Regions from separate parts of the Homo sapiens genome. Here all the other regions are reported to be linked to region 3. Evidence: microRNA targets listed by miRTarBase, many of them from high-throughput screens and not tested one by one. Region 3 holds a microRNA gene; each other region holds the end of a gene's coding sequence.
What was found. The annotated mature microRNA hsa-miR-1909-5p reads UGAGUGCCGGUGCCUGCCCUG and lies in region 3 at 3,111-3,131, opposite strand. An mRNA with a match to its seed (bases 2 to 7 or 8) in the 3' UTR can be bound and repressed. Matches are read on the target gene's strand: a 7mer-m8 pairs with bases 2 to 8, a 7mer-A1 pairs with bases 2 to 7 and ends in A, and an 8mer does both.

Region 1: miRTarBase lists CPZ as a target of hsa-miR-1909-5p. The part of its 3' UTR that is shown has no 7-base or 8-base seed match.
Region 2: the mRNA of BTBD19 is a reported target of hsa-miR-1909-5p. Seed matches in the 3' UTR shown: 8mer at 6,313-6,320.

What each region holds. Positions count from the first base shown.
Region 1 is chr4:8,617,230-8,628,260 of GRCh38, forward strand. It overlaps CPZ (carboxypeptidase Z), which reads left to right. Exons shown (of 11, transcript NM_001014447.3): 10 at 1,200-1,299; 11 at 2,033-2,523. The coding sequence ends at 2,388. LOC124900659 (a long non-coding RNA gene) reads right to left here and starts at 7,940. Exons shown (of 3, transcript XR_007058014.1): 1 at 7,591-7,940.
Region 2 is chr1:44,810,583-44,821,613 of GRCh38, reverse strand. BTBD19 (BTB domain containing 19) reads right to left here. Exons shown (of 8, transcript NM_001136537.3): 3 at 11,007-11,031; 4 at 9,516-9,575; 5 at 8,550-8,618; 6 at 8,345-8,476; 7 at 8,115-8,240; 8 at 6,029-7,976. The coding sequence ends at 7,842. It overlaps LOC107984952 (a long non-coding RNA gene), which reads right to left and starts at 1,135. Exons shown (of 2, transcript XR_001738036.3): 1 at 1,052-1,135; 2 at 1-383. It also overlaps a transcript of PTCH2 not described here and the pseudogene RNU5E-6P. RefSeq lists enhancers at 1-545, 1,202-1,858, 1,865-1,914, 1,945-2,044, 1,859-2,515 and silencers at 1,235-1,954, 7,626-7,695.
Region 3 is chr19:1,813,093-1,822,677 of GRCh38, forward strand. It overlaps MIR1909 (microRNA 1909), which reads right to left and starts at 3,146; the gene lies at 3,067-3,146. It overlaps REXO1 (RNA exonuclease 1 homolog), which reads right to left. Exons shown (of 16, transcript NM_020695.4): 5 at 8,427-8,590; 6 at 7,172-7,303; 7 at 6,842-6,965; 8 at 5,926-6,039; 9 at 5,614-5,751; 10 at 5,390-5,503; 11 at 4,615-4,688; 12 at 4,127-4,237; 13 at 3,606-3,721; 14 at 3,339-3,477; 15 at 3,133-3,253; 16 at 2,156-3,062. The coding sequence ends at 2,974. LOC100288123 (a long non-coding RNA gene) reads left to right here and starts at 8,997. Exons shown (of 4, transcript NR_152847.1): 1 at 8,997-9,585.

The DNA.
Region 1 (11,031 bases), not on the chromosome of region 3:
AGAAGCCAGAGCTGCTTTGGCCTCATGAACATTTTACAGCTGAGGAAACTGAGGCACCCAGAAGCAAAGGTTTGTCTGAAGTGAACAGTCACTACGGCAGAGCTGATTTTCTGGCCCAGAGAAAAACCAGCCCCTCTCGGGCTAATGTCCCGGGGCCAGGGAAGGAGGATGCTCCTGTTGCCAGGGCTGCTTCCTGACCCTGTGGGCCCAGGCTCTTTGCTTCTGTGGACTCCTCCCTCCATATAAAGTATTTAAAATTATACAACAGTCGACATAAAGATGAATATATAGGAAAACAGTCTCTCCAACCTAAAATGTTTTGCTTTTATCCTGATTTTAAGAGGAGCAAGATCATTTTCATAGTTTCTGGAAGCACAGCAGGGCCTGGCTGGGAGCCCTTTCCCTTGAGAATCTGTTGCTGCTGAGCCCCGTGCAGGGCCCGGGCAGGGGGCAGCCTCGCTGGACGGACTCCTCTCCCCACAGGCATCCTGGTCCTGCTCAGCGTGACCTTCAGCATCCTTGGACCCCACGTTGTTTTCTGCTGACTAGAGCAGGGGCCGTGTGGGTGGTTTGTCATCAACTGTTTTACAAGAAATGTGGACAGGATCAGGCAGCTTTGGGAGGGCTTTCCAGGGTGAAAACGTTGGAGCTGTGGGCGTGCAGGGAGCTTGTGTGTTCAGGACCAGTTCGTGCCAAGGCCAGGCAAGCAGTAAGAAGGCAGGGCGTGTTATACACGTGTACGATGAAGAAACCGCGCTGCTCGAGCGAGGGTCCGAGCACTGTCCTCGTCCTCTCCCATGCCCACGCCACCTTCAGGAGCCTCAGCTCAGAGGGACCCAGGGAGTCCCGCTGGGGCTGGGAAGGCAGGGAAGGAATGCCGATCAGGCAGAAGAGTGGCAGGAAAGGGTTCTCTGCTCAATGCCCATAGAGATGGAGTCAGCCAGGCCTCGGGTGAGATGCAGGGTCATTCAAAAGCCCAGAACGTGCTCGGGTCAATTGCCAGGGAGGAAACTGAGGCCCAGAGAGGGGAGTGACTGACTCGTTAAAGATGGCAGAGCGAGGGCTGGCAGAGTGGGGCTCTGTGGGGTAGTTCCCCCTAGATACCAAGCTCTGAGGAGCATGTGGGGAACGAGCTGACGGCCTCCACGCTCAGCAGGAGAGCTCACGCCATCTCCCTGGCCTCCCCTTGGTCTCTTCAGGTGCACCGGGGCATCAAAGGTGTGGTGACAGATAAATTCGGCAAGCCAGTCAAAAACGCCCGGATCTCAGTCAAAGGCATTCGCCACGACATCACCACAGGTGAGCACGTCCCTGGCTGTCCCCTGGGGACCACGTCTGCCAAGGAAATGCCACACCGTGGCAGCCGGCACCCTCAGGCACTCACAGTGTGCCCAGCCCTCAGCAGGATGGCTCCATTCCTCCCCAGGCTGGCTGGGTCGGGGAGGGTGGGCAGGAACCAGGGTCTGCGTCTCCTTACAGCATTTGGTGAGGGAAGAGCTTGCCCAGCCGTAGCTACTGAATGATGGTGGATGCATGCTCTGTATTCCTAGGAAAATGCCGCCTCCTCCAACATTGCCGGGGAGAGCCACCTCCACCCCTAAGCCTGTTTGTTTCTATCCCAAAGTTCATACCCTGTTGATAGCTGGGGTGTCCAGCCCTGTGCGGGCTCTGGCTGTCCTTACAGGAATTTCACAGCCGATGAAAAATGACGGTATGCTGTGATATGTGTTACCTGGCAGAGATGTGGTCCAGAGAAGAGGGGGACTTTTGCTAACTGTGGGGTGGGTATGGGGGGTGGGAGTGGTCATCGAAGGTTTCAGAGAAGAGGGGTGCCTAAGCAGGGTTTTGAGGTATAAATAAGAGTTTGACAGAGAAAAGGGGTGGGAAGGACGTTCCAGGCCCACACAGAGGCAAGTGCACATTTGGCGCCTGCCTCCCATGCTAACCTCTCCCCACTCATATCCATCACCCATCACCCCGTGGCTGGGTCTGCAGTCCTCGTGAGAATCATTTTTAATCTATTTGTCCACAGCCCCAGATGGTGACTACTGGAGACTGCTGCCCCCAGGTATCCACATTGTCATTGCCCAAGCCCCTGGCTACGCCAAAGTCATCAAGAAAGTCATCATCCCCGCCCGGATGAAGAGGGCTGGCCGTGTGGACTTCATTCTGCAACCTCTGGGGATGGGACCCAAGAACTTTATTCATGGGCTGCGGAGGACTGGGCCCCACGACCCACTGGGAGGTGCCAGCTCTTTGGGGGAGGCCACGGAGCCCGACCCGCTCCGGGCGCGCAGGCAGCCCTCGGCCGACGGGAGTAAGCCCTGGTGGTGGTCCTACTTCACATCGCTGAGCACCCACAGGCCACGCTGGCTGCTCAAGTACTAGCCCCGGCCCCAGCACCCGCCAGGATGTGGAGACCGAGGCCCATCTCCGCATCCCGGGCTCCTGGCTCTTGATTTTGTCTGCCACAGACATCCCACAAAGCCGCTGCCATTTTATTAAAGTGTTTTGATCCACTTTGCACTGGAATGAGAGGATCTGTGTAAGGCACTTTCCAGGGAAGGCTGGGGACTGACCCTTGTTGCCTGAGGGCAGCTGTGGCCTGGGCCCCACAGGGCAATCCCGGGCAGCTATCCTGCTGCCCACAGGTCCGGATTGCAGGCCCGAGACTCCAGCCTATCTGTACTGGGCCAGGTGGACTAGCTGGCTTTTCCCAGACCACCAGGCCTTGAACTGACTTCAGATGGGAAACTGAGGTGGGCCAAGGGTGTGAGCATCTGTAGGAGCTGAGCTCCGGATCCTGCAGCTGAAGCTCATGTGTCCTGGAGTGTAGAGAAGGAGGGGCACTGAATGGGAGGATGGGGGTGGGCAGGAGGTGACCCCAAGGTAGGGTCAAGAGCTCAAGGGCGGGAGAGCTGGCCAGAGCCTGGGGCCTCATGGCATGATCGGGGGGACCACACTCAGGCTCACAGGCTTCCAGGGGGGCCTGGCTCCATGGGCGTGGATATTCCTGGGACCTCCCTCATCCTGATCATGCTACTTGGGTCCAGGGACCCTCTCCTGTCCCCTCTCTCACCATCGAGAAAGTCTGTCAGCCCCGGGATCTTCCAGGAAGGGGTCCCGTAGCCTGAGCAGAGAATGCAGCAGAGAAGGCACCTGAGCCGGCCAGGGCTGTGTCAAAAAGCAGCAGAGACCTGGCGCTTCAACAGCAGAAGTGTGTCCTCCCACAGTCCTGGGGGCTGACGTCAGAGCCATGTCCCCAGGGCGGGCTCCTTCTGGCACCACGCTCCCTGGCTCTTTGGCGGTCATCTTTCCCCCACTCTTCCCATCATCATCCCTCTATGTGTCTCTGTCCACATTTCCTCTTCTTGTATTGGGCTAGGGCCTAATATAAGACCCTAGCGACCCTCATTTTAATTTAGTTACCTTTACAAAGATGCTACCTCCAAATAAGATCACACTGAGGACCTGGGGCTAGGACTTCAGCAGATGAATTTTGTGGGAGGGACATGGTTCAGCCCCTAGGAGAGGGCAGCATCTCCCATACAGTGGCTCCTCACATGCTCCTGGCTGTGCCATCGGCCCCCCTGGTTTCCAGAGCTCCAGGCCTGGGCAGGTCCCTCCATGGAACTGGGCATCCACTCTGAGCAGTGCCTTGACCTCAACTGAATGACAGCATGGTCCCCACCAGCACCCTCAGCCTCGTTCCATTGCCTCCTGGCAGCTATGCCCTGAGGCGAAGGCCTCGGGGTTCCCAGCTGAAGCCCAGAGGAGCAGGCACACCCCCGGCGCTGGGTGGCGTGCTCTCGGGGGAAGGCATGGGGAGGGCTCAGGCAGCCTACAGCCCTCAAGTCTTACACTGGCACAACAGCGCTTGGTTTGCGGAGCAAGAATGATCTGGAGTGTTTGGGGAACATCTCACAGCCTCCTGAGCCCCTGCATCCTACATTCACCCATGCGCCTAGTGACTTGTAAGTTTACATTTATTTGGCTCCACTGCATACAGGGCACCGTGCAGGGGTCCTCTGAAATCCCGGGAGGCCCGTGGAGCAGACCTCTGCTTCGTGCTTTGCTGAAGTGGGTGTGGAAACAGCAGGCGCAAGGTGCCCAGGACTCGGGGTGTGCAGGTGGCCGCTCAGTCTCAGTCCCCCCGTGGGGCACCTGCACGAGGCCTTCCCTGCACTTCATTCTGTCCCCACCCGTTCACGCTGTCTAGGGAAGAGCCTGCTGCAGTGGGTGTGTGGGGTGGAAGGACTCATTCCAGAGCCCAGTTCGTGTCAGGGGCCAAGGGCCAGGCCCCCGGCATAGAAACTGGGCCGAGGAGTGGGTCAGGGAGCCTTGGGGAAGGCTGTGCAGGGGGGCCGTGGCAAGAGTGGGGGCCGGGGAGGTGGAGACGAGGAGATAGCATTCTCTTCACACACCACCCCGGATCCAGCCAGCGGGGGGCCCTTCTGCACTTCCATGTCCTTTTTTGTTGGTTTGTTTTGAGACCGAGTCTCACTCTCTCGCCCAGGCTGGAGTGCAGTGGCGCGATCTCGGCTCACTGCAACCTCCACCTCCTGAGTTCAAGTGATTCTCCTGCCTCAGCCTCCCAAGTAGCTGGGATTACAGGTACCTGCCACCACACCCGGCTACTTTTTGTATTTTTTTTTTTTTTTTTTTAGTAGAGATGGAATTTCAACATATTGGCTAGGCTGGTCTCAAACTCCTGACCTCAGGTGACCCACCCGCCTTGGCCTCCCAAAATGCTGGGATTACAGGAGTGAGCCACCACGCCCGGCCCCTTGTCATTTTGCTAGAACCTGCACAGTCCTTAGTGACGTCCTTGCCTCTGGCAGGATCCCCTGGCTGGGCCCTGCTGCCCCCCTCACTTTCCTCAGTCCCTGCTTTCCAGTGTGAAAGCTGTCAGAATCAAAATGGAGACACTTGTCTTAAACAAAACAAAACAAAACCCCAACCAATAGAGCTGGGAACAGCCCTGACGGTATTCCCCATAAAACCATCACAGAAGACAGCAAACACCACAATCGTGAGCAAAGTCCATCACAACCTCACACAAAAAACACTTCTGTGAGGACACCTGCCCAACCTCAGACTGTTACCACCCGTGTTCTCGATTCCTGTGGCAAGGATAAATATCCCAAAACAATTCTGTGATTCTCTTCACTTTGCCATTAAAGCCTCTGTGCTTTTACCTCCCTGAAAACGCACAGCGGACTCCAGCATACGTATTTGCACGCAATGCCCGACTCCTGAACGAACCTCGTTTTCATTTGGAGAGCCTCTCTGGCGGTGGTTCGGGTGGACGCTAGTGTGGACATGGCATTGGGAAAACGCTGCCTGTGCACCAGGGCTGCCTGTTGCTCCAGGGGTGCTCACTGCTTCCAGGCCCGTCCGTGGACAGAGCTAGATATCCAATTGTTTTTAAAGGGAAAACACAAGGCCAGGCGTGGTGGCTCACACCTGTAATCCCAGCATTTTGGGAGGCCGAGGCCGGTGGATCACCTGAGGTCAGGAGTTCAAGACCAGCCTGGCCAATATGGTGAAACCCTGTCTCTACTAAAAATGCAAAAAAAAAAAAAAAAAAAAAAAAATAGCTGGGCAAGGTGGCAGGCTACTCTGGTGGCTGAGGCAGGAGAATGGCTTGAACCCAGAAGGTGGAGGTTGCAGTGAGCTGAGATCACACCATTGGACTACAGCCTGGGTGACAGACCAAGACTCTATCTCAAAAACAAAAACAAAAATAAAAAACACAGAGGGTTCCTGTTGCTACTTCCAATTCCAAACCAGAATGACCTTCTCCTGTGCAGAGAATCCCAGATTTCAGGGCAAAGGAGGGGAAGGACAAAGTAGAAAGTCACACAACTGTGCCTGCTTGATCCAAAGCACACACGACAGTCTCACAGCCCAGTGCTAGTCCGCTACCCACAGTGCAATCACTGCAAACAGCTCCAGTTGTTTCCTCAAGTTCCTTTGGTTCTGGGATATAACCCACTAGGGCTATATGTAAGCTCCGAGGATTGGCTTTTAATATTCCTGGCAGCTGAGAAGAACAAGGTGCCGTGAAGAGCCACAGCCCCTCCAGAAACTGCACCTGGGCAGCGGGCCGTGTGGCCACAGCTGAGACCCTGAGGAGTGGGTCCCCAGGGGACTGGTCTCGGGGAGAGGGGCTGCCTCTTAAAACACGACGATGGACAGACAGATGGATACGTTCAACAGCAGCATGAACAAGTTCTACAACTAGAAATCATTATTTGTAAAGGAAAAACCCATTTACGAGTTGAATCAGAGGAGAGGCTCGTGTCTCTGAGTTCTGAATTCATGTGGGGAGGAACAAATAGAGGAATTACCTGAAACGTAAAGCAAAAATACTGCCTCGAGGAAGTTATGAGGGAAAAGAGATTTTGAGAACAGATCCAGTAGCCCCATATGCAAATAATAGGGAAATAAAATATAATAGAAGAAAGGCCGGGCGCGATGGCTCACGCCTGTAATCCCTACATTTTGGGAGGCTGAGGTGGGCAGATCACTTGAGGTCAGGAGTTCGAGACCAGCCTGGCTAACATGGAGAAACCCCATCTCTACTAAAAAATATAAAATACAAAAAATTAGCCGGGCATGGTGGCAGGCACCTGTAATCCCACCTACACTCGGGAGGCTGAGGCAGGAGAATCACTTGAAACCATGAGGCAGAGGTTGCAGTGAGCCGAGATTGTGCCACTGCACTCCAGCCTGGGCAACATAGTGAGACCCTGTCTCCAAAATAAATAAATAAATAAATAAAAGAAGACGGACTGATGTTTACAAAGCATTCAGAGGAAAGGGCTCTGCCCTGACACTCTATACCCCAGCATGGATAATAATAATAATCAGTGATATAATAATAGCCGATGCCCATGGACAGTTTTCCCTATCCAGGCACAGCTTCAGTGTTGTCTGAGCTTGTTTAATTTGTTTCCTCTCCTTAAGGAGAAACATATTAGAATTATCTCCATCTCACAAGCACAGACAGGTCAAGTGACTTATGCACCATCACACAACCAGGGTTAGAAACCAGAAAACCGGGCCAGGTGCGGTGGCTCACGCCTGTAATCCCAGCACGTTGGGAGGCCAAGGCGGGCTGATCACGAGGTCAGGAGATCAAGACCATCCTGGCTAACACAGTGAAACCCCGTCTCTACTAAAAAAAAATACAAAAAATTAGCCGGGCGTGGTGGCGGGCGCCTGTAGTCCCAGCTACTTGGGAGGCTGAGGCAGGAGAACAGTGTGAACCCAGGAGGCAGAGCTTGCAGTGAGGCGAGATGGCGCCACTGCCCTCCAGCCTGGGCGACAGAGCGAGACTCCGTCTCAAGAAAAAAAAAAAAAAAAAAAAAAAAAGGAAACCAGAAAACCTGGCTTTGGGATGGGTCTGTGTTCTCAGCCACTCTCTCACTGCCTCTGCAGATAGAATGCATGGGTCACAGAGAAAGAAAGACATGTCCAGGTTGGCAAGGATGAAGGGAAGATGACCTCCGGACCCTCCTCTGAGCAGACGAGCATGGACTTAGCACAGAGCCGGCAGGAGGAAGAGGAAGGAGGGCTACTCACCTCCGTGAGACATTCAAGGCGACGTGAGAGCCACCGGAAAGTGAGGTTTGAGTGTGGAATCAGGAGCATGCGATAGAGAGGCATCCCACGGCTGACCTCCTAGGCCTGGGGGTGTAAGTGGCCAGAAGCCCCCGGGGGCTCAGGCGCGGTGGGGAGAAGGTGCACCCAGTCCCTGGTGGAGGGTGGCGTTCCGGTTCCTGTCCTGCAGGACTGGGAATCTGATGTTGAGGATGCAAGGGAACAGCGCCGCCTGGTGGCATCGGAACACCGGGACCACGCGGGGACCCTGAGCAGGAGCGAGCCCTCGGTGGAAACCGGGAGAGAAGCCTGAGCCAGCTGCAAACCCAGGCAACTGCAAAAGAGCCACAGGAGGAAGAATGGGGAGGACCAGGAACCCGCAGAGCGGGAATCGGATGCGGGCTGCACTCCTCGTTAAAAGACCACCCGACTGGTCTGAAAACACGTTGCATGCGATTTAAAGAAGCGTGATTACGGGCCGGTGATAAGGCTTCGAATAAAGTGATGCCGGCTGGGCTCAGTGGCTCACACCTGTAATCCCAGCGCTCTGGGAGGCCAAGGTGGGCGGATCACGAGGTCAGGAGATTGAGACCAGCCTGGCCAACATGGTGAAACCACGTCTCTATTAAAAATACAAAAATTAGCTAGGCGTGGTGGCGGGCACCTGTAATCCCAGCTACTCGGGAGGCTGAGGCAGGAGAATCGCTTGAACCCGGGAGGCAGAGGTTGCAGCGAGCCGAGATCACGCCACTGCACTCCAGCCTGGCAGACAGAGCCAGATTCTGTCTAAAAAAAAAAAAAAATGATGGTGCCAAGCAGCCGCAGGTCGGACAGCAAGGCACGCTTTAGTACAGAGGCGGCGAGGTGAAGAGCAAAGCGTGAAGTGGGAAAGACATTGTGAACAAGTAGTAAGATAAAAAATAAATCTGTATTATACATGAATCAATTCAGCAGGTAACTCTATAAAAGCCAAGTTATTTAGAAATATAAGAACTTAATAAAAGCAGGATCCCAGATGGTCCCATGCTGGGTACCATCTTCAGAATCAGACCTCCCTCATCCTGATCATGCTACTTGGGTCCAGGGACCCTCTCCTGTCCCCTCTCTCACCATCGAGAAAGTCTGTCAGCCCCGGGATCTTCCAGGAAGGGGTCCCGTAGCCTGAGCAGAGAATGCAGCAGAGAAGGCACCTGAGCCGGCCAGGGCTGTGTCAAAAAGCAGCAGAGACCTGGCGCTTCAACAGCAGAAGTGTGTCCTCCCACAGTCCTGGGGGCTGACGTCAGAGCCATGTCCCCAGGGCGGGCTCCTTCTGGCACCACGCTCCCTGGCTCTTTGGCGGTCATCTTTCCCCCACTCTTCCCATCATCATCCCTCTATGTGTCTCTGTCCACATTTCCTCTTCTTGTATTGGGCTAGGGCCTAATATAAGACCCTAGCGACCCTCATTTTAATTTAGTTACCTTTACAAAGATGCTACCTCCAAATAAGATCACACTGAGGACCTGGGGCTAGGACTTCAGCAGATGAATTTTGTGGGAGGGACATGGTTCAGCCCCTAGGAGAGGGCAGCATCTCCCATACAGTGGCTCCTCACGTGCTCCTGGCTGTGCATCGGCCCCCCTGGTTTCCAGAGCTCCAGGCCTGGGCAGGTCCCTCCATGGAACTGGGCATCCACTCTGAGCAGTGCCTTGACCTCAACTGAATGACAGCATGGTCCCCACCAGCACCCTCAGCCTCGTTCCATTGCCTCCTGGCAGCTATGCCCTGAGGCGAAGGCCTCGGGGTTCCCAGCTGAAGCCCAGAGGAGCAGGCACACCCCCGGCGCTGGGTGGCGTGCTCTCGGGGGAAGGCATGGGGAGGGCTCAGGCAGCCTACAGCCCTCAAGTCTTACACTGGCACAACAGCGCTTGGTTTGCGGAGCAAGAATGATCTGGAGTGTTTGGGGAACATCTCACAGCCTCCTGAGCCCCTGCATCCTACATTCACCCATGCGCCTAGTGCCTTGAAGGTTTACATTTATTTGGCTCCACTGCATACAGGGCACCGTGCAGGGGTCCTCTGAAACCCCGGGAGGCCCGTGGAGCAGACCTCTGCTTCGTGCTTTGCTGAAGTGGGTGTGGAAACAGCAGGCGCAAGGTGCCCAGGACTCGGGGTGTGCAGGTGGCCGCTCAGTCTCAGTCCCCCCGTGGGGCACCTGCACGAGGCCTTCCCTGCACTTCATTCTGTCCCCACCCGTTCACGTTGTCTAGGGAAGAGCCTGCTGCAGTGGGTGTGTGGGGTGGAAGGACTCATTCCAGAGCCCAGTTCGTGTCAGGGGCCAAGGGCCAGGCCCCCGGCATAGAAACTGGGCCGAGGAGTGGGTCAGGGAGCCTTGGGGAAGGCTGTGCAGGGGGGCCGTGGCAAGAGTGGGGGCCGGGGAGGTGGAGACGAGGAGATAGCATTCTCTTCACACACCACCCCGGATCCAGCCAGCGGGGGGCCCTTCTGCACTTCCATGTCCTTTTTTGTTGGTTTGTTTTGAGACCGAGTCTCACTCTCTCGCCCAGGCTGGAGTGCAGTGGCGCGATCTCGGCTCACTGCAACCTCCACCTCCTGAGTTCAAGTGATTCTCCTGCCTCAGCCTCCCAAGTAGCTGGGATTACAGGTACCTGCCACCACACCCGGCTACTTTTTGTATTTTTTTTTTTTTTTTTTTTTTAGTAGAGATGGAATTTCAACATATTGGCTAGGCTGGTCTCAAACTCCTGACCTCAGGTGACCCACCCGCCTTGGCCTCCCAAAATGCTGGGATTACAGGAGTGAGCCACCACGCCCGGCCCCTTGTCATTTTGCTAGAACCTGCACAGTCCTTAGTGACGTCCTTGCCTCTGGCAGGATCCCCTGGCTGGGCCCTGCTGCCCCCCTCACTTTCCTCAGTCCCTGCTTTCCAGTGTGAAAGCTGTCAGAATCAAAATGGAGACACTTGTCTTAAACAAAACAAAACAAAACCCCAACCAATAGAGCTGGGAACAGCCCTGACGGTATTCCCCATAAAACCATCACAGAAGACAGCAAACACCACAATCGTGAGCAAAGTCCATCACAACCTCACACAAAAAACACTTCTGTGAGGACACCTGCCCAACCTCAGACTGTTACCACCCGTGTTCTCGATTCCTGTGGCAAGGATAAATATCCCAAAACAATTCTGTGATTCTCTTCACTTTGCCATTAAAGCCTCTGTGCTTTTACCTCCCTGAAAACGCACAGCGGACTCCAGCATACGTATTTGCACGCAATGCCCGACTCCTGAACGAACCTCGTTTTCATTTGGAGAGCCTCTCTGGCGGTGGTTCGGGTGGACGCTAGTGTGGACATGGCATTGGGAAAACGCTGCCTGTGCACCAGGGCTGCCTGTTGCTCCAGGGGTGCTCACTGCTTCCA
Region 2 (11,031 bases), not on the chromosome of region 3:
CTCCACCTACCTGCTTCACCCGCACGGGAAACGGCAAGGCAGAGGGGCAAAGCCATGCAGCAGGTGGAAGGCGAGGTGGAGGCAGATCAGGAAAGCAGCCAGTTGAAGCAGAGAGAGGTCAACAGGGTCTGGGGAGCTTCTCAGGAGGTTTGTGGACCCAGGGAAAGGAGCCAGGTTCCAGAGCAACCTCCAAGGCAAAGGCCTCTGTAAGTTGGTTGTCCTGACAGCCGAGAGGTGTCTTTGGCCAGTCAGCCAGTGGATCAGTTGCGGGAACTGCTCAGAAACTGAGGTGCTAGCAGTTAGTGAGGACACAGCGTAAGTTGTTTGTTCTGTGAAAGTTGAACAGCTCCACTAAGCAGAGGCCTTGAAGAGTGGCCACAGCCCTGGAATAGAGCACAGAGCCTCACCTAGAGGCGTGGGGAGGTTTGCAACTGCCCCTTCCCAGCCATAGCTTAGGACCCATAGTCTAGTTCACATAGACCCTGGGCTCCAACCACCCACTCACCAGGAATGATCCCACCCCAGGAACAATGCGTTCTCACATCCCACCCCACCTGGACAAAGGCCAGGAAATCATGTTCTGACCAAAAGATACAACAACAAAAACAACAACAACAAAAAACGCCTATTGCAATTGAATCCACGCTAAAATGCCTAAAAAGCTCAAGAGAAGCGGGTAGTTGGCAGAGAACCTAGAGTAGGGGGTGCAACCAGCAGGCCCAAGGGAGGGAGGCTGCATTTGGGTCCAGCAGTGTTTGGGTCACCAAGAAGGGCCTTCTAGGTGGAGCAGAGAGAGCTCACCAGGCCAGAATAGTGCAAAGGGGGTCAGCCCTCAGTGCCACTTACCAGCGGAGTAACCCTGGGCAAGTTAGCCAGCCTCACTAAGCCTCCTCATCTTCATCTTTCCAGGCCCGAGGAGATCTAGCCTCTGCCTCCCACCCCAGCACCCCCTCATCAGACACACGGAGCGCCACTGTCTGGACAGGCTGAATTGGTCTTCGGGTCCCTAATTTCTCATACGCCATTCCCTCTGCCTAGAACACTTTCTCACCTCCCCTTGATGTGACCCCATATCACCCTTCGAGGTGAATTGGATCGGATGCCATCTCCTCCAGGAGGGGTGGGGTCGTGCCTCCTGTGAGGTCCCAGTGCCCCTGAGTGTCTGTGCCCGTCTGTTTCCCCGTCCCTCTCTCTAAGCCCGGAGGCTTACTGCGGGTAAGGACGGCGGGACAGGACCTTAACCCCTGGGACGAACACCAGCTCCGCAAAGGACTCCGCACCCGGCGCCGCCCACGGGGTGCGGGTCCCAGGAGGACCAGCAGAGAGGAGCATAGGAGAGCAAAGGAGATCAGTGACCCATGGCTTCCCCGGTGGCGCGGAACAGCCCGGAGCCGCCTGTGATTTGCATACCCATGGTGCACCACGAAAAGATACCCTCAAGATGCTTGCACTCCCTCTGTGCGCGCATTTCTGCACTGTTTTAGAGCATGATGCCTCTTACACGCATCTGTGTGCATAAACTACATATAGGGAGTGCGTACCACGCAGGCATCCAACAACCATAAGTGTGTTAAGTGTTAGTTCTCCCTGCGAGGTTCGAAGCGGAAGTCACGAATATACTCGGGTTTCTCTTCAAAGCGCATAAATCTTTCGCCTTTTACTAAAGATTTCCGTGGAGAGAAAGTTGTGAGTTTTTATTCAATTTTTTGAGGCCTCTTATTTCCTGAGGCTACATTTTTAAGTATTAAAAGTTAGGCAACTACAACCAAGGAACTTGGTCATTTGTTATTTGTACCAAATGTTCACAAACTTATTCGGGCGTGGTGGTGCCTGTTTGCAATCCCACCTATTGGAGAAGCTGGGGCGGGAGAGTCTCTTGACTCTAGAAGACGGAGGTTGTAGTGATCCGAGATCGCGCCACTGCCCTCTAGTCAGAGTGGCAGAGACTCCTGGGGCGGGAGAGTCTCTTGACTCTAGAAGACGGAGGTTGTAGTGATCCGAGATCGCGCCACTGCCCTCTAGTCAGAGTGACAGAGATTCAGTGTAAAACAAAAAAAAATCAGAAGTTTGCGTGACACCTTGTTTTGAGCTACATTTGGGGTTTATTGGCTTCTGCAGTGTGCAGTAAGACTGGCTTCTATTGTTTATTTCTTGCGTTTTTGTTGCATTTCGTTGCAGATTTAAGAGATAAACAGTGGAAGGCGCTTTCAAGTCGTCCGGTCATTAATTAAGCCTTATTGTGGCTAGAGGTTCAGGGGCGGTATATCGCGCCAACCAAACTCCTTGTTCTATTCCCAGAGACAGTAGCTGTTAGCGGTTTGGTGTGGCTCTTCCAGACTGATTTTTTTTTCCCAACTCGATTGCGAATCCAAACACAGTTTATGTGGTGAAGAGACAAGGTTCCTTCTCCTATGGAGCTTTTTTCTTTTGAGATGGAGTCTCACTTTGTCACCCAGGCTGGAGTGCAGTGGCTCAATCTCGGCTCACTACAACCTCCGCCTCCCGGGTTCAAGCGATTCTCCTGCCTCAGCCTGCGGAGTACCTGGGACTACAGGCGCCCGCCACCACACCCGACTAATTTTTGTATTTTTAGTAGAGACGGGGTTTCACCGTGTTGGTGAGGATGGTCTCGATCTCCTGACCTCGTGATCCGCCTGCCTCAGCCTCCCAAAGTGCTGGGATTACAGGTGTGAGCCACCACACCTGGCCCTTTTCTTTCTTTCTTTCTTTTTTTTGTTTTTTGTTTGTTTGTTTGTTTGTTTGTTTGTTTTTGAGAGGGAGTTTCGCTCTTGTTGCCCAGGCTGGAGTGCAGTGGCGCGATCTCGGCTCACTGCAACCTCCACCTCCCGGGTTCAAGCGATTCTCCTCCTCAGCATCTGGGATTACAGGCGCACCACCACGCCCGGCTAATTTTTGTGTTTTTAGTAGAGACAGAGTTTCACCATGTTGGCCAGGCTGGTCTCAAACTCCTGACCCCAGGTAATCCGCCTGCCTCGGCCTTCCAAAGTGTTGGGATTACAGGCAAAAGCCAACGTGCCCGGCCCCTATGGAGCTTTTCTAATAGAACCAAACACAAAACAAATTGAATAAATAATATAAATCCCAGATAAATAATATCTCAGTGAGAAGTGCCCTGTAGAAAGAGCATTTTGATAGAATGGTCTACCTCCTTCCTATTCCCTCTCCATAAGGGAGCTCACCTACTTCCATGGCTTTAAGTAAATGCCATCTGATAGCTAGTGACCCCCCAGTTTACAGCCATCAGCTAGTCCTGTTGACTCCCTTCCATCAGCTGGTCCTGTTGATACCTTCAAAGCGTACGCTTCATCCAACCACATTTTACCACCTCCACTGCTGCCATCCTGGTCCAAGATCTCTTGCTGGATAATTGCAATAGCCCCTAACTGTTCTCCCTAGACCACTCTTCTACCTCGCTCTTGCCCTTCTCAATTCCAGTCCTCCACATAACGGCCAAATTCTTTTTTTTTTTTTTCTGAGAGGGTCTTCCTGGAGTGCAGTGGCTGGAGTGCAGTGGCACAATCTCAGGCTGGAGTGCAGTGGCGCAATCTGAGTTCACTGCAACCTCCACCTCCCAGATCCAAGCAATTCTCCCACCTCAGCCTCCCAAGTAGCTGGGACTGCAGGCGCGTGCCACCACACTGGCTAATTTTTGTATTTTTTGTAGAGACGGGATTTCGCCATGTTGCCCGAACTGGTATCAAACTCCCAGATTCAAGTGATTCGCCCACCTCACCCTCCCAAAGTGCTGGGATTACAGGCAGGAACCACCATGCCCAGCCCAAATTATTCTTTTAAACTAAATCTGATCACACATCACTGTCCTGCACAAAACCCTCCAATGCCTTCCCCCATGACACATAGCTCCCTGCAGATCTCTTGTCAAATGTTATCTCATCAGAGGTCTACAATCAGTGCCCTGTACGAAATAGTCCCACTCCCACCACATAGCTATCTCTTCAACCTGTTTTGCTTTTCCTCATAGCACAAACTACTCCCTGAATAGAGCATACATTTCTTTACTTGTTTACTGCATGTTTCTCCTCTTAGAATGTTAGCTCCATGAGGCAAAGACTTGACTTGACTTGTTGTCTGATGTACTTATTCCATGACCGTAAATCAATGTCTAGTGTGTGAGCACTCAATGAATAGTTGTGGAACAAATGAATGAATATGTTTTCTAAACACATATACAGAATTTAATCTGTCCCACTACAATTCTAAGTATTTTATGAAATTATTTTCATCTTCCTAAAAACTCTACTAAATAGGTTCCATTATCTCCATTTTATAAATAAGGAAGCTGAGGCAAAGAAAGGTTAATCACAAAGAAAATATGTGGCGGAGCTGGGATTCAAATGCAAGCATTCTGGCTCCAGGAGACACGCTCTTAATCACTATGCTACCTTTTTTCTTTTAACAAGAGGAATCATGCTGTAATTGGTCTATTCTGTGCTTTTTTCACCAAAGATCATGGATTTTTTAAATATTACAGGAATATACCATAGTTAATATAACCAGTCCTCTGGTAATGGACGTATAGATGATTTTCAATTTCCACTATCCAATCAATGCTGCCATGTACTACTGAGTAAGCACATTTTCTGTCGAGAGATAATGCTAAATAACTATCTTTAATCCCTGTGCAATATATATACACACACATCTATGTGTATATATAATATACACACACATCTATGTGTATATATAATATACACACACATCTATGTGTATATATAATATACACACACATCTATGTGTATATATAATATACACACACATCTATGTGTATATATAATATACACACACATCTATGTGTATATATAATATACACACACATCTATGTGTATATATAATATACACACACATCTATGTGTATATATAATATACACACACATCTATGTGTATATATAATATACACACACATCTATGTGTATATATAATATACACACACATCTATGTGTATATATAATATACACACACATCTATGTGTATATATATACACACACATCTATGTGTATATATAATATATACACACATCTATGTGTATATATAATATACACACATCTATGTGTATATATAATATACTCACATCTATGTGTATATATAATATACACACACATCTATGTGTATATATAATATACACACACATCTATGTGTATATATAATATACACACACATCTATGTGTATATATAATATACACACACATCTATGTGTGTGTGTGTGTGTGTGTGTGTATATATATATATACATATATATATATATATTTTTTTTTTTTTTTTTGAGACAGAGTCTCACTCTGTTGCCTAGGCTGAGTGCAGTAGCACAATCTCAGCTCACTGCAACCTCCGCCTCCCAGATTCAAGCAATTCTCGTGCCTCAGCCTCCCAAGTAGCTGGGATTACGGGCATGTGCCACCACACCTGGCTAGTTTTTTGTATTTTAGAGACAGGGTTTTGCCATGTTGCCCAGGCTGATCCCGAACTCCTGAGCTCAGGCGAACCACCCACCTCGGCCTCGCAAAGTTCTAGGATTACAGGCGTGAGCCACGGTGCCTGGCCTCCTGTACAATATATTTTTGTATGAAGTCCCTGAGATAGAAATCTAACTTTATTTTCTTCTAAATAGTCAACTGTCTCTCATTTTAGATTGACAGTATCTTGCTTTGCAGCTCCTTTAAAACTCTTCATGGAATAAAGTGGCATTTAAATGAGGAAATAGGCTGGGTGTGGTGGTGCTTCATGCCTGTAATCCCAGCACTTTGGGAGGACGGAGTGGGACCATTGCTTGAGCCCAGGAGTTTGAGAACAGCCCGGGCAACGTAGGGAGACCTCATCTCTACAAAAAGAAAAAAAAAAGTTAGCCGAATGTGATGGAACATGCCTGTAGTCCCAGCTATTCAGCAGGCTGAAGTGGGAAGATCACTTGAGCCTGGGAGGCTGAGGCTGCAGTGAGCCGAGATTGCACCACTGCACTCCAGCCTGGGTGAGAATAAGGTTGTGTCATAAATAAATAAATAAAGTCATTTACTTAACATTTACATAGCACTGATTATCTGACAGAGACTGAGGAAGCAGAAACGAGTAAGACACCACTCCAGGCCCCAGGGATCTTTCTTGAGGGAGATTCACATCCTCGGGAAAACAAGATGTATAGTGAATGAAGGAGGTAGCAGAGGGGTCTGCAGTAACTGAGTAAGGTATGGAGCTAGAGGACTAATACCTCCAGGATAAATGAATTTATACAAAGATTGTATTTGAGAGAAGAGGTGAGGAACCACTCACTAGTAGTTTTGAGTGCCCTGAAAGTGAAATAGATTGAATTTTGTCCTGGAGGTCAATGGGATGTTCCAGGACTTAAGCCCCATAGGACTGACAATCAAAAACAGGTCTGGCTGCACTGTGGGAAATGGATTGAGGGGGCGCTGGAGTGAAGGCAGGAAGGCTGTGAGACGTGTCAGACAGGACAGGTTGAACCTGGGGCTGAGAGAACTGAACCAACTGGAAAGGTCTCTTAAGGTCTCTTACAAGGTAAAAAGAGACCTAAGGCAGGTGTGAAGAGCGATAAGGCAAGGATGAGATCCAGGTTTCTGGCGTGGGTGTCCACGGAAATGAGAAACACGATGGGGGCAGAGCTGGGGAAAAGCTGGGGAGATCAATTTCTCGCCGAGCCTGTGGTGTCTGAGGGGCATTCAGGGAGCGATCTCCAGGGGGGCAGGTCTGGAATGAAAGAAGGAGCTGAGGCCGGGCATGGTGGCGCACACCTGTAATCCCAGCACTTTGGGAGGCCGAGGCTGGCGGATCACATGAAGTCAGGAGTTCGAGACCAACCTGGCCAACATGGTGAAACCCCCGTCTCTACTAAAAATACAACAATTAGCCGGGCGTTGTGGTGCATGTCTGTAATCCCAGCTACTCAGGAGGCTGAGGCACGAGAATCGCTTGAACCCGGGAGGCGGAGTTTGAAGTGAGCCGAAATCGCACCACTACACTCCAGCCTCGACGACAGAGCAAGACTCTGTCTCAAAAAAAAAAAAAAAAAGGCCGAGGCGGGCGGATCACAAGGTCAGGAGATCGAGACCATCCTGGCTAATACGGTGAAACTCCGTCTCTACTAAAAATTCAAAAAAATTAGCCGGGCGTGGTGATGGGCGCCTGTAGTACCAGCTACTCCGGAGGCTGAGGCAGGAGAACGGCGTGAACCCGGGAGGCGGAGCTTGCAGTGAGCCGAGATGGCACCACTGCCCTCCGGCCTGGGCGAGAGTGCGAGACTCCGTCTCAAAAAAAAGAGAGAGGAGAGAAAGAAAGAAAGAAAGAAAGAGATAGAGAAAGAGAAAGAAAGAAGGAAGGAAGGAAGGAAGGAAGGAAAGAGAAAGAAAGAAAAAGAAAGAAAGAAAGAAAGAAAGAAAGAAAGAAAGAAAGAAAGAAAGAAAGAAAGAAAGAAAGAGAAAGAAAAAGAAAAGAAAGAGGGAGCTGAGCTGAACAGATAGATATGTGGGAGTCATCAGAATAGACTAGTAGACGACAATGCCCAGGGGCAGGGCGTAGAGTCAGGGTGTGGAACGAAGGAAATCCTCGTTTTCGAGTTTCACCCCCTCAGGGAGGCCCAGCCCAAGCCCTGCCCGGCCCGACCCCACCTCGCCCACACGGGCTTGATCCCGCACAAGGGGCTGCGCGTGGCAGACAACGGTTCTTCCGGCGCCCGGCTCACTGGGCACGCTGGGAACGGAAGCCCGCTCCGAACGCCGAGCACTTCGGGAGCTGTAGTTTGGGGCAGGCTCAGCTGGGCGGGTCGAGGGCTCCCTGCGAGTCCCGGCGTTGGATCATTTGAAGGACAGGTCCAGAAAGCGGTGATGCTCCCGGGGCAGGGTGCCTCTCCGGCGGCGACACGGGGCGCCCCGGGCCTCATCCCCTCTCCGCAGGGCATGGCATTTCCACGCCTCCACAATCTGCTCCACCTGCAGAGCAAGGCCAGTTAGTGCGCAGTCCCGCGGTGGCCCCTCGCCCCGAGGACCGTGGGCCGGGCTGCTCCTGCCCCCTCCCAGCGCCCTGTACCCCCTGCTGAGTGGAGCTGGGCCGGTTCCCCGCGTCCCCACCGGGATGAGTGGTTCCTGCCGGTTCTGCTCTTCCAGGGCGCTCAGCTCCGCCGGGGCCAGCAAGGCTAGTCTCAGCTCTTTCACCACCGGGGCCGCCACCTCAGCCACCGGCCGCTCCAGCACCGCCTGCAAACGCCAGCCCTGAGTCGGGCACCTGTCCTGCCGCCCGCTCACCAGTCTCGTGGCCAGCACCTCCTTCCGTGCCCTTGCGCTCCCCCAGCCCCACTCACCGCGCCCACGCGCGCCCAGCTTCGGGCCGCGCGGACCAGTTCAGCCTCGTCCACGCAGAGCTTGTCGCTGCGGAGCAGGGGCAGCAGCGCGGCCGCCGACAGCTCCAGGAAGCCTCGGGTCCGGAGGGCCTCCTGCGAGCCGGCAAATGGGTCAGGGAGGAGCAGAATGCGGTGCGTAGGGTGAGGAGTATGAAGGGAGCAGTACCTGGCTGTGGGCCTCTATGAAAGCCACGCAGCGCTCCTGCAGCTGCCCCAGGCCAAAGGTTACGGCCACCTGCGAGCAGAATGAGGGAGATCAGGTTGGAGACTGGAGAGGCCGTAGCCCAGCCTGCTCACTGGGACCCACCACTGCAAGCCTGACCCTAGCCCTAGCTGGGGAGGCTGACAGGGCCCTCAGCCCTCCAGGAAACTAGACCCAATGAAAGCCTGCTACACACACACACACACACACACACACACACACACACACACACACACACACACGTGGACTCACTCTACAACCTGCTCTTCCCTACAGGAGACCACGCCATGGCCTTCAAACCCCACCTGGGACCTAGGCTTGATTTTTTTTGAGGCAGAGTCTCACTCTGTTGCCCAGGCTGGAGTGTGCAGTGGCGCAATCTCGGCTCACTGCAACCTCTGCCTCCCGGGTTCAAGCGATTCTCCTGCCTCAGCCTCCAGAGTAGCTGGGAGCATGCCACCACACCAGGCTAATTTTCTGTATTTTTAATAGAGACAGGGTTTCACCGTGTTAGCCAGGATGGTCTCGATCTCCTGACCTCTTGATCCGCCCGCCTCGGCCTCCAAAAGTGCTGAAATTACAGGTGTGAGCCGTTGTGCCTGACCCAGCTTGACTTCTAAAGTCTACAGCCACCCTTTCCCTACCCCAAGTCAAGCTGAGAACCATTCCCCAGCCCTGACAGACAGAAGACCAGCAAAGACCTCCAGCCCCTTCAACACCTGCTCCTGCACCTGACCCTGCTGATACACCCAGGATCCCACAGATCTAGGCACAGAATTCATCCTATAAACATCCTTGGAGCACCCCCACCACCACCATGTACCCAAGTTATTTCCAGGCCAGACACAGCAGGCCCAGGCTCCCAGGTGCTGGGAGCCCATTTCCACACACAGAGCCAGACTCCTACCATGCCTGTCCAGCAGCACCCACCTGCAGGGCCTCACAAACCAAGTCCACATCCAGCACCTTCACCACAAACTGCAGGCACAGCTGGGAACAGAAATGAATGTGGGTTGGGTGGCGGTGTCCCTGCTCCAAGACACTAGTTCCACCCCAGAAGCAGTGAGCAGGCTTGGAGCGGTGAGTCACCCAGCAGCCCCAGACCCATCCTGACCCAGGCCAGGGGAGGCAGGGAATTGCTAGAGCCTGAGACAGCAGGCTTACAGGAACTGGAGACTAGCAAAACCAAGCCCAGCCACCCACCTTCTAGTACATTCGCCACTAATCAAAACCAGATAAAGGCCATGCAAAATTCTCCCCTTCTTTCAGGATGCTTATCTTCCTCCACTTGTTCCCTTCCTGACTCAAGGATACTTCTATTTTTAGCAGAAACTTGAATTTCATCCGTGACATCTCTCATCTCTTGACTGCTGCACTAGCCTCCTGACTGGACTAGCGAGTCCTCTCCACCTCTTCCAATCCCTTCTCCCCTGAGTTTCCAATTCTTCACTCCCTTATCGGAAACCTTCAGTGAATCTCCACTGCCCTCTGCTTAAAAGAAGTCCAAAAGCTTGAGGGCCCTACATGAACCAGGCCCTGGCGTCCTCTGCAGTCTCGTCTTGCCCTCTCCTCACAGTTCAGACACACCAAATGTCTCACTAGCTCCTTTGGTGCCTCTGTGACTAGAATACCATCTTCCCACTTCCCCTAGGAACAAAATCCTATTTGTTCTACCAGATCGAACACAAATGTTTCCTCCTCTGGGAAGTCTTCTCCTCTCCCTAGTGGCGGGACTGGAGAGTCCCCCCATACAGTCTCGGCACCATTCACGCTTCTCTATCACACTTTCTTTTTTTTTTTTTTTTTTTGAGGGCAAGTCTTGCTCTGTCACCCAGGCTGGAATGCAGTGGCACGATTTCAGCTCACTGCAACCTCTGCCTCCCAGGTTCAAGCGATTCTTGTGCCTCAGCCTCTCAAGTAGCTGCAATTAACAGGTGTGTGCCACCATGCCTGGCTAATTTTTGTGCTTTTAGTAGAGATGGGGTGTCACCATGTTGCCCAGGCTGGTCTGGAACTTCTGGGCTCAAGTGATCCACCTGCTTCAGCTTCCCAAAGTGCTGGGATTACAGGCGTGAGCCACTGCGCCCGGCCTCTATCACACTTCTTATGCCACCCAGGTAAGCATTTTCATGTGTCTGTCTCCTCTCCCTCTCTGGAGAACACGGATCAAGGCTGATATCTTTGTATCTACAGCACCAGCCATAATCACCCCCTCTTCCCACAGCACACACAGGGCAGGCATGCATGGATCCTTTTGCACACAGGCACACATACATGCCCTACTTACTTGGGAGAGATATACATACTTCTCTCTGTGTGGGCACACGTTCCTCTCCAGGCCAGAGTGTGTGTGAGGCAGGGCGGGAAGTGAGCCCGTGAGAAGCAAGGGAAATGAGACAGGGACCTGGCACAAAAACCCACCTCTCTCAGTTCCTCCAGCCCATAC
Region 3 (9,585 bases):
TGGGTTCGTTCATTCATCCCATACACGTTCAACGAGCGCCTCCTAGGCGCAGATGCAGGGCTGAGCACCAGGCTGGGGAGAGGCGGTTATAGCCATTGAGACCACCCTAAGGCCAAGAGGAAGCCCGCAGGGTTCTTTCCAGCAGGTGGCAGGGGCTCAGGGATCCTTACTGAAGAAGTGGCAGGGGTGAGTTCAGCGACGAGGCTAGGGCGGGTCCAGGCCAGCGATAGGGCCTGGAGCCAGGGTCAGAAAGTGTGTGCGGAGGGGCTGCTGAAGATGAAATGCCCCCAAGAGTGAGGCTACCTGGGGTGAGGGCCCAAAGGGAGAGGCAAACATGGGTGGAGGGGGATAGGGAAGCCACCTCCCCCATCAAAGCGGCAACCACCTGAGGGCTCTCGGTGATCACAAACCCTCTTTCTTTGGAAGCCCAAATTGGAAGCCTGCTTGGCCCTGGAGGCTGCCAGGGAACCTCTCTTTTTTTGGAGACAGAGTCTCACTGTGTCACCCGGGCTGGAGTGCAGTGGTGCGATCAGAGCTCACTGCAGCCTCCACCTCCTGGGCTCAAGCGATCCTCCTGCCTCAGCCTCCAGAGTAGCTGGGACCACAAGCAGGCAGGCAGGCCACTGTGTTTGACTTCTCTCCTTTCATTCCTTCAACACTTCCCCTGTGCTTGCTTGCTTGCTCAGTGGTTACGAAAAAAAGCCGGGGCTGGGAGTTTGAACACACTGTTCTAATAAACTTTAGAAGAGACCTGGTTGGGTGCAGCTGTGAGGACCAGATTCCCCCACCCCAGCCTTCGCAGGGGGCACTATCTGGGGGCAGGAGCTTGCCCAGGGCACTTGTGCAAAGGCCCTGAAGCCTCCAGTGGCAACAGGTGGCTTCACAAGCTGAAGGGAGTCCCTGGGGGCTGAAGCCAGGGCTGGCCAGCCTTGGGACCCCCCGTGGGCTATGTCCTGAGGCACCAGGTGCGTTCTGGGAAGGGGGAGGCAGACATCACATGGGAATGCACAGAAACAGAGCGCATACACGCCTGCGCCATTTATTTAGAACACAGAGCCGGGCACAGTGGCTCATGCCTGTAATCCCAACGCTTTGGGAGGCCGAGGCAGGTGGATCACTTGAGGTCAGGAGTTCGAGACCAGCTTGGCCAACGTGGTGAAACCCCATCTCTACTAAAAATACGAAATTAGCCAGGTGTGATGGCACAGCCATAATCCCAGCTACTCGGCAGACAGAGGTTGCAGCCAGCTGAGACTGGGTGACAAAGCGAGACTGTGTCTCAAAAATAAAGAAGAAAAAGAAAACAACTCCTTTACAGAAGAGGTGGGAGAGTCACTAGTCACAAGAACAGCCCTCGAGGGTGGAAGGGCCTGGCCTAACCACGGTCCCCCAGGAGGGCCCTGGAGAGATGCAGAGCCCAGAACCGGGAAGGGAGCCTTGGGATGGAGTCCTCTGGGGAGGGCCCCCACGTCCTCATCCCGGGACCTGTGCCCTTGGCCTTGCCCTTCAGCAGAAGCCCAAGACCAGGGTGGCAGGAAACCCACTCCAGGCAACCTGCCCCCAGCTGCTGGGTCCTGTCCCGCAAGGCTCATCACTTTTTCTACTTGAGGTCAATAAAAAGTGGGGCCTAAACACCCCTGGGCCTCCCATTTCCAAATGGGGTCCCGATGCAACCACAGTTGCCCGAGACGTGCGTGCACTACACAATGTGTGGCGTTTCCTGGCAAGGGCCGGAGCAGCTTTCCGTGTCTGCACTCCATCCTTTGACGGGCAACACACAGCAGCTCCCAGTCTCTTTAACCCCCTCTCACCATCTGTGTGCAGTCCCTATCTCTGGGCAGGGCAGAGAGGGAAGCCAGCTCTGTGCACAGGGCCCAGCTCCACACAGGGCTGGGGACACCACCCACTGTCCGAGAGGCACTAGAAGCTGCAGGATGGTGGCCCATGATCTGGGGCTGGAACTGGGACCCCACAGCAGGTGTGGCCCAGCCCTGGGGGAGCCAGCCCTGGGCCAGCTTTTGTGAGGGAAAGTTTCACTGCTCTGTTTTCTCTGCGTTGATGGGAAGAGAATCAGTCCCGGCTGCAGGGACAGTGGCCTCCCCGGGGCACATGCAGAGGCCTCACCAGGCACCAAGACCAAGACCACCACAAAATCTAAAATCCATACAAACATTTATTCTGTCCCTGCCTGGAGGTGAGGGGGAAGGGGGTCCGGAGAGCCCCGCAGAGGAGGACGGGGCTCTAGCGGGAAGACAGTGTCCGGAGGCCGGTGGGCTCCCTCTAGACGGCAGACCCTGGGGCTAACGAGGGGCCAGCTGGGTTCTCAGAGGTCACGGAGTGCAGGGGTGGGGCGGCGAGTGGTGGAAGCCGGCGCCCCCGAAGACCGGCCAGCCCCTGGAGCACAGAGGCGGGTCCAGCCCACACTGCGCTGAGTGTGGCCCTGGCCCCCACTGGGGTCTGTCCCACCCCCACCCCGCAGGAGGGAAGGCAGCAGGCCCGCTCTTCCCGGTGGGAAAGATGCTGTGCAAGTCATCAGGTTTAAATTAAAAATAATAAAAATAACAATACAAAATAAAAAAAGACTGTCTCAAACAAACCTGGGACAAGCCCGCCCCGCGACCCACGTGAGGAGCAGAGGTGCCGGCCACCACCCGGGAGGGAGGGCCTGGCAGGAGGGGCAGGAGGGGCTGCGGGCCGGGTGGGGGCGGGCTCTGTCCTGGTCTCCATCAGCAGCAGTTTCTAGAGACGCCAGAGGGCTGGGGGGCAGAGGGTGGGGACCGGCGGAGGGGTGCGGCAGGACGTGAGCGGGGGTGGGCTGGGCTGGGCGTTCTCTGGCCGCCAGCTCATCCCGCTGCTCTGGGCTGCCTCGGCCAGGTGGACGGGTTACCGGAGATTTATTGCACTGTTTTGGAAGAGGCATGGGGCTAAGGACCAGCGGGACGGCAGGAGAGGCGGGTGGGAGGCGGGCAGGCGTCATCGCTTGGTCTTGGCGTCTTCTCGAACCTTCCAGATCACCAGGTGCATGCAGGCGCCGGCGTCCTCGCTGGAGCTGTGCCCATCCACTGCGGGGCAGATGCGGTGAGCACCCGGCCCCTGCGCAGGGACGGCCCCAGGGCAGGCACCGGCACTCACCATTGTCCTGGATGATCTGTCTGAGGTAGTCGGCCATGAGGTTCCGCAGGGACCGCTTGTAGGGGAGGCCCAGGCGGTGGGGGAAGAGCACAGACGTGTCCACCACGGTGCTGTGGATGACCTGTGGGCAGCGGCAGAGATCAGCGCACGTGGGGCCTGCGCAGGTCCTGCTGGAGAACCGCGCGGGACCCGGGCCGGCAGGGCACCTTCAGGGCCAGGAGGTCGCTCTCCAGGCTGTGTCCGATGAGGATGGTGTCAGCGCTGAACATGCTCAGCAGAACGGCCTGGACGTCACGCAGCGTGACACTTGTGTCGGCAAGGTCAGCCTCCGTCACCCCCGAAAACCTGGGGGAACGGGCAGGAGGGGCACCAGGGCTCAGCCTGGAAGCACTGGCTGGTGGGGCGGGGGAGGGTGGGTCCCTGGGGAGAGGCGGCTGGGAGGGCTCCCAGCTCGTGGAGGGCACTGGCCACACCTGGTGTTGTAGTCCACGATCTCGTTGTCAGGCTTCACGAAGGTGTCATAAACCACGTGCACGTCCGTGTCGACCACCGTGACGCGCGTCAGCTCCAGGCCATATGTGGTGTAGGACTGCGGGCAAGGGATGCACCTCAGATGTGTCCCAGGCACCGGCCTCCCTCCCTCCCCTTCCCTGCCCCTTTGAGTCTCCAGAGCCCCTCCAGGCAGAGGCAGTGACCAGAGACTCTGTGGGACTTCTAGGAGAGGCCGAGTGGGGTGTGACCTCAGTAACCCCCTTTCGCAAAGCCCTCCTGCCTCCCATTCAGAGGCAGAGCCGGGGCCCAGTGCCCGGTGTGCTTGGCTCTGCTGGGAAGTATGGGGTGTTGGTCCAGGGCAGGAGCCACAGGCACCGGTGCTGCGAGAGAAACCCTGAGCGCTGGCCGGTGAGCCAGGCCCAGATGGGGCCAGATGGGGCGGCCGCACCAGGCCAGGTCCTCCCCAATCCTGAACCCGACGCTGGGCAGAGAACAGCCTCACCATCTCGCAGTCCAGGGCGTAGATCCCCGGGTGGGTGTCTCCTGAGAGCTCTTTCTCAAAGGTCTTCACGAAGCCCTCAAGGCGCTCCTTCCGGCCATCCTGCACGTGTTGCTGGGGGTGGAGAAGGCAGGTGAGGGCAGCTTCGGGGTGCAGTGGGGGCGGGGGTGGCAGCAGCAGCACATCTCTGAGCCCTTCGGGACCATCCTATCCATCCATCACGCCCATTCACTGGTTGGGACCCTGGTGAGCAGGTGGGGAAGGGGGCTTGCCAAGAAGACACAGGGAGGACGGCTTCCCAGGATGGGAAGTGGCCAGGGACAGGGCCTGGGGCCTACGGGTGCTACGTTCTCTGGGTAACACAAGAAAGGCTGCCCGGGGGCCCAGACCCTGAGCCCAGGACTGTGCTGTGTCCCGAGACCCCACACCAACGATGGGGAGGCAGAAGTCTGTTGAGAACAGGCAGAGGGGACTGGGACGCCAGGGCTCACCTTTGCGACTTGGCAGCCGACAGAGCCGGCGGCAGCCGAGCAGCACATGTACTGGGTCTCCCAGCCTCCGGCCACTGCAGGGGACACAGACACACAGTCAGGGCCCGGCCAGGCCCACTCCACAGCCCCCGGGGCACTGACCACCTGCATCTACCGAGCCCTACTAGGGAGTGAGGACTGAGGACAGGAGGCCTCAGCCTCTTGGTGGAGCTGGAAGCAGACCAGGCCCCGGCAGTCGTGTGGCAGCCAGGACGCCCAGGCCTGGATCCAGGGAGACCAGTGCCCTCTGCAGAGGCCTCTTGGCAGCGCTGCCCCGGGCAGCACCCTCCAGGTATCCCTGAGGCGATGGCTTTAGGGGCCGCCACAGGGCTGTGCAAGGCTGGCCATGTGCCCTGAGCGTGGCTGCGTGGTTGCCTGGGGGATTGAATAGAACCACCAGGCCAAGGGTGGGACAAGCCCCTCCGCTCCTGGGGCCAGCAACCTCCACATTTCCATGGACCAAGGGCACAGGAAGGCAGGGACACAGGGCCTTTCAGGTGGTGGCATTTGAACCTTGTCATGGGAAAGCTCTTGTCTTACTTTTGCATAAAGAACAGGTGGAGAGAAAATGAGGCCAAGGGCTAGCCCCGGCTCTGCCAAAGACGGTGCAGCCCAGGGACCCTGAGTGGGATGGAGGGCCTGGGTAAAGCCTTACCCCAGTTCTGGGGGCCTCAAGGGAGGGCCCAGGTTCCGGGGGCCATGGGTGGGAAGGGGAAGGACCCGGGTAAGGCCTTACCCCGGTTCCGGCGCAGCCGTCCCCAGTGGTAATAACACTCCTCGTCCCGGATGCAGCGGCCTGAAGAGGACACGAGGTACTCGGTGCCACAGCGGCAGCAGGTCCTGCAGGAAGCTGTGGGTGGGGACCCAGGTGGAAGCTGAGGCTCACGCTGGGGCCCGCATGCCCGGCCTTGCCCACATCCCGCACCTGCCCACCTAGGCCGTCGCAGGCCAGCGACTCACAGTCCTTGGGCCTCTTCTCCTCAGCTGTGAAGATGATTGCGCCCCCGGGCCGCTCTGGGTGCGGGAAGGGGTAGCCGTTCTCCTTGAGCTGGTCCTGGGTGAGCAGGTACTCCCTGAGGCGGCTGTACAGGGCAGCCCCTGTGGACAGGCACAGTGGTCAGCCCCTGCCTGGGATGGCCCACGGGGCGGTAGACACCACCGGGAAAGGCGGCTGGGCCGGCAGGGGCCCACGAAGCACCGTGTGGCACAGCAGGGGCTGGGCCGGCAGAGGCCCACGAAGCACCGTGTGGCAGAGCAGGGGCAGGGCCTTACCTTTCAGGTCCTCCACCCGGGGGCTGCTTGGACGGCTGAGCGAGAAGCTGGTCTTGGCGGCCAACCTGCCCCCCAACACCACCTCGTGGGACACAACCCTGCGGCCACTGGTTTCTGGAAGGAAGGGAGGGAGGGGAGGAGGGTGTGAAGTAGCTGGCTCAGACCCCTGCCCCGCCTGCTCTCCCACCCACCCTGCCCTCCTCAGACCTCTGCCTCAACTCCCCCTTTCTGGGACAGCACCCCACTGACCCCGGGTTCCAGCCTGACCCGAACAGGAGAGGCAGACATGCGGTGAGCCAGGGACGCAGGGCAGCCGCCAGCTCTGCAGGCCCCAGAGCTGCACGGAGGCCCCACACCCAAAGTCTTCGTCCCCTCCCCTCAAGCGAAGGGGGAAGGGCGGGGAGAACAGCACGGGGGATCTAATGGCTTTCGAGGGCTTTGAGCCTTCATGGGCCACCCAGCCTGCGACGCCAACCCAGGGCCCCTCCGAGTGCTAATGCAGGCGGGGACGGGGGCAGGGGCCGGTGATAGCTTAATGCAGCCTGGAGAGGCTGCAATGAAACGCCCAGGTCTCCGCTTTCTTCCTCCCCAGAGCTTAATGCATGGAGCTCGCCCAGCCCTGGGCCTCCTGCTTTGAAGAAGCTGCCGCAGCTCCATTAGCAGGCGGCCCCTCGGCTCGGCTTGGAGACCCCACTCAGCGGAGGAAGGCGGCTGACAGCGAGGACACCAGGGCCAGGTCCGTCCTACACAGAAGCCTGGGAACCAGGCAGCAGGCAGCCCCCCCACAGCACCGCGCTTTCCTTTTGTCTGAGACTGTGGCTGAGCTCAGGGCTGTGAAGGTCCCAGCGAGGGTCCCAGCCCAGCTGCCACCCCAAGAGCAACCCTGAGCCTCCCCCGCCCACCCGCCAGGACTCACTGCTGAGGCCGGGCACAGCGCTGGGGGCCAGGCCCCTGAGCTTCTTGAGGGTGTTCACGGCCACATTCAGGTAGATGTTCTTGCTGGGGCTGCGGTCATAGGCCACCTTCTCCTCGTTCAGTGCCTGGGGGACAGGCGGTGCCCAGCTGAGGCCATGCCTGCCTGGTGCCGGGGAGCCCCAGCGGTGGGGTCGCCATGGGGTCGGGGACTTGCATCTCTCCCAGGCAGCTCCGGGTCACAGCTGCGGCTGAGAGGCCGGGGGATGTCTGGGGACCACCCTGGACCCCTAGTCCCCACCCGACCGGCCAGATAGGAACTCCAGGACCTCACCTTCTCTATGGCCTCCTGGTTGGAGGTACAGAACTTGAGACACTCCTCGATGAACAGGTTGAGATAGCGCTGGCGGATGACGGTGGGGACTTTGCCCCCAAACTCTTTGGGGATAATGGGTTTCTTTAAACTCTAGAGGGAAGGCAAAAGCTGCCATGGGTGAGGGCCTCCACAAGGCCTCCAGCGGGGAACGCAGACGCGATGAGGCCGTGCCCATGGCTGGAGGCAAGAGTGAGGTGCGCTGGGACAGATCAGCCTGGCTGCAGTAGGGACAGACACGCCAAGGCAAGACAGGAGCAGCAGGGGAAACTGAGGGCAGCGGAACTAAGGTCATGGGAAACTGAGGCCATGGGGGCACAAGGGAACTTGCTGTACTTTCTGCTCAATTTTCCTAGAAACCTAAAGTTGCTCAAAAAACATAAAGTCTATTAATTAAAAACAAAACAAGGCCAAGCGTGGTGGCTCACGCCTATAATCCCAGCACTTTGGGAGGCTGAGGCAGGAGGATCACTTGAGGACAAGAGTTCAAGATCAGCCTGGACAACGTGGCAAAACCCTGTCTCTACAAAATAAAAAACAAAATTATTAGCTGGGGTGTGATGACACCGGCTTGTGGTCCCAGCTACTCAGGAGGCTGAGGTGGAAGGATCACTTGAGCCCAGGAGGTCGAGGTTGCAGTGAGCCATGATTGCGCCCCTGCACTCTAGCCTGGGCAACAGAGACCCTGTCTCTAAACAAAAAAAAAAAACACCAACCAACCAAAAAAACAAAACAAGACAAAACAAAAAAACACCGCCAGGGCGGTCGGGCATGGTGGCTCACGCCTGTAATCCCAGCACTTTGGGAGGCCGAGGCGGGTGGATCACGAGGTCAGAAGATCGAGACCATCCTGGCTAACATGGTGAAACCCCGTTTCTACTAAAAATACAAAAACAGCCAGGCGTGGTGGCGGGCGCCTGTAGTCCCAGCTACTCAGGAGGCTGAGGCCAGAGAATGGCGTGAACCCAGGAAGCAGAGCTTGCAGTGAGCCAAGATCGTGCCACTGCACTCCAGCCTGGGCGACAGAGCGAGACTCCATCTCAAAAAAAAAAAAAAAACACCAAGGCATGGGGAGGGAAGGTGAAGGCTGTACTGCGGTGTGGAGCACGAAGGCCCGCAGGGCAGGGGCGAGGCTGGCCCTCCGCAGGTCCCATGTGGCCGGGCCTCAGGGCGTGGTCTTGGGGGTGGTGGTCCTGGCCGAGATGGGAGGGGCTACCTGTAAGGATGGACTGTGGGCGATTCGCTTAGGGATGATGGTGGTGGTAGTCTTGGACGCCATCCCCGACAATGTGCGTGTTTTCAGCTGCTGGCCACCTGGCTCAGGGCCGTTGGAGGACTGGCTGCCGCTGGCCGCAAGGGTCCTCTTGGCACCTGTGGGGGCTGGCGGGGCACAGGGGGTGTGGGCACAGGGCGAGTGGCTGCCCATCACCACGTGGCGGAGCACCAGGCAGCCGCGGCCGCTCAGCGCCAGCAGCACGTGCATCTCCGCGTGCAGGGGGCCGGGCCAGGGTGAGGGGCTGGGGCTGCGCAATGGCATCAGGCTCTAGCTGCCTTCAGGCAAGTCCATCGAGGCAGAGGACACAGGTCAGGCTGCGGAGGCCGCTGAGGACACGTCACCGGTGGGGTGGTCCAGGCCTCTGCCACGTGTTCTGACCCCAAGCCCAAGGCGTCGATGTCTGAGGGAAAGGCCCTGGCTCCCGGACAGAGGACCGAAGGGTCTCGGGTGCCCCCACCTGCTCATTGGCTTTGCCCTGCCCTGCGGCCTCTGTGTTCTGCCTTGCCCTTTGATGAAGTCACAAACCAGAGGGAGGAGGCCAGGCCTGCAGGGGCTGCTTCGGAGGGCTGGCCACGCGGGCAGCTGCAACCTGGGCATGTACGTCTGTGTGGCAGGGGGGCTTCTGGACTGGGGGCTCGGCACCGACCCAGGAAGGGGAGCTGTGAGCAGGGACATCTGGCCCTAGTCTCAGAGCAACATCCCTCGAAATGCCATCTGGCCCTGGAAGGTGCAAGGGAGGCAGGATGAGTCTGCTCATGCTACCGCGGGCCGCCCAGCAAGGAAGCAGGCTGCCCGCCAGGCTGGCACGCGCCTCTTGCAGTGGAGGGTTTGCTCTTCAGGAACGGACAGAGAACCTCCAGACTCCCTCGGCTGCACGCTGGGGGCGAGCCCAGGCAGCCACAGGAGTCCTCCAAGCCAGATGAGCCCGCCCTGCGGCACTGCCAGCACTTGGGACGCCAGACTCCCTTCAGGCGGCGGGCCCCAAGGGCACTGCGACAGCTCAGCACCCACCACAGATCAGCAACAGGACAACCCGAGCGCGGAGACACAGACGGGAAGCGTGTGGGGTCCTGGGATAGGCCCAACTCAATGATTTCCC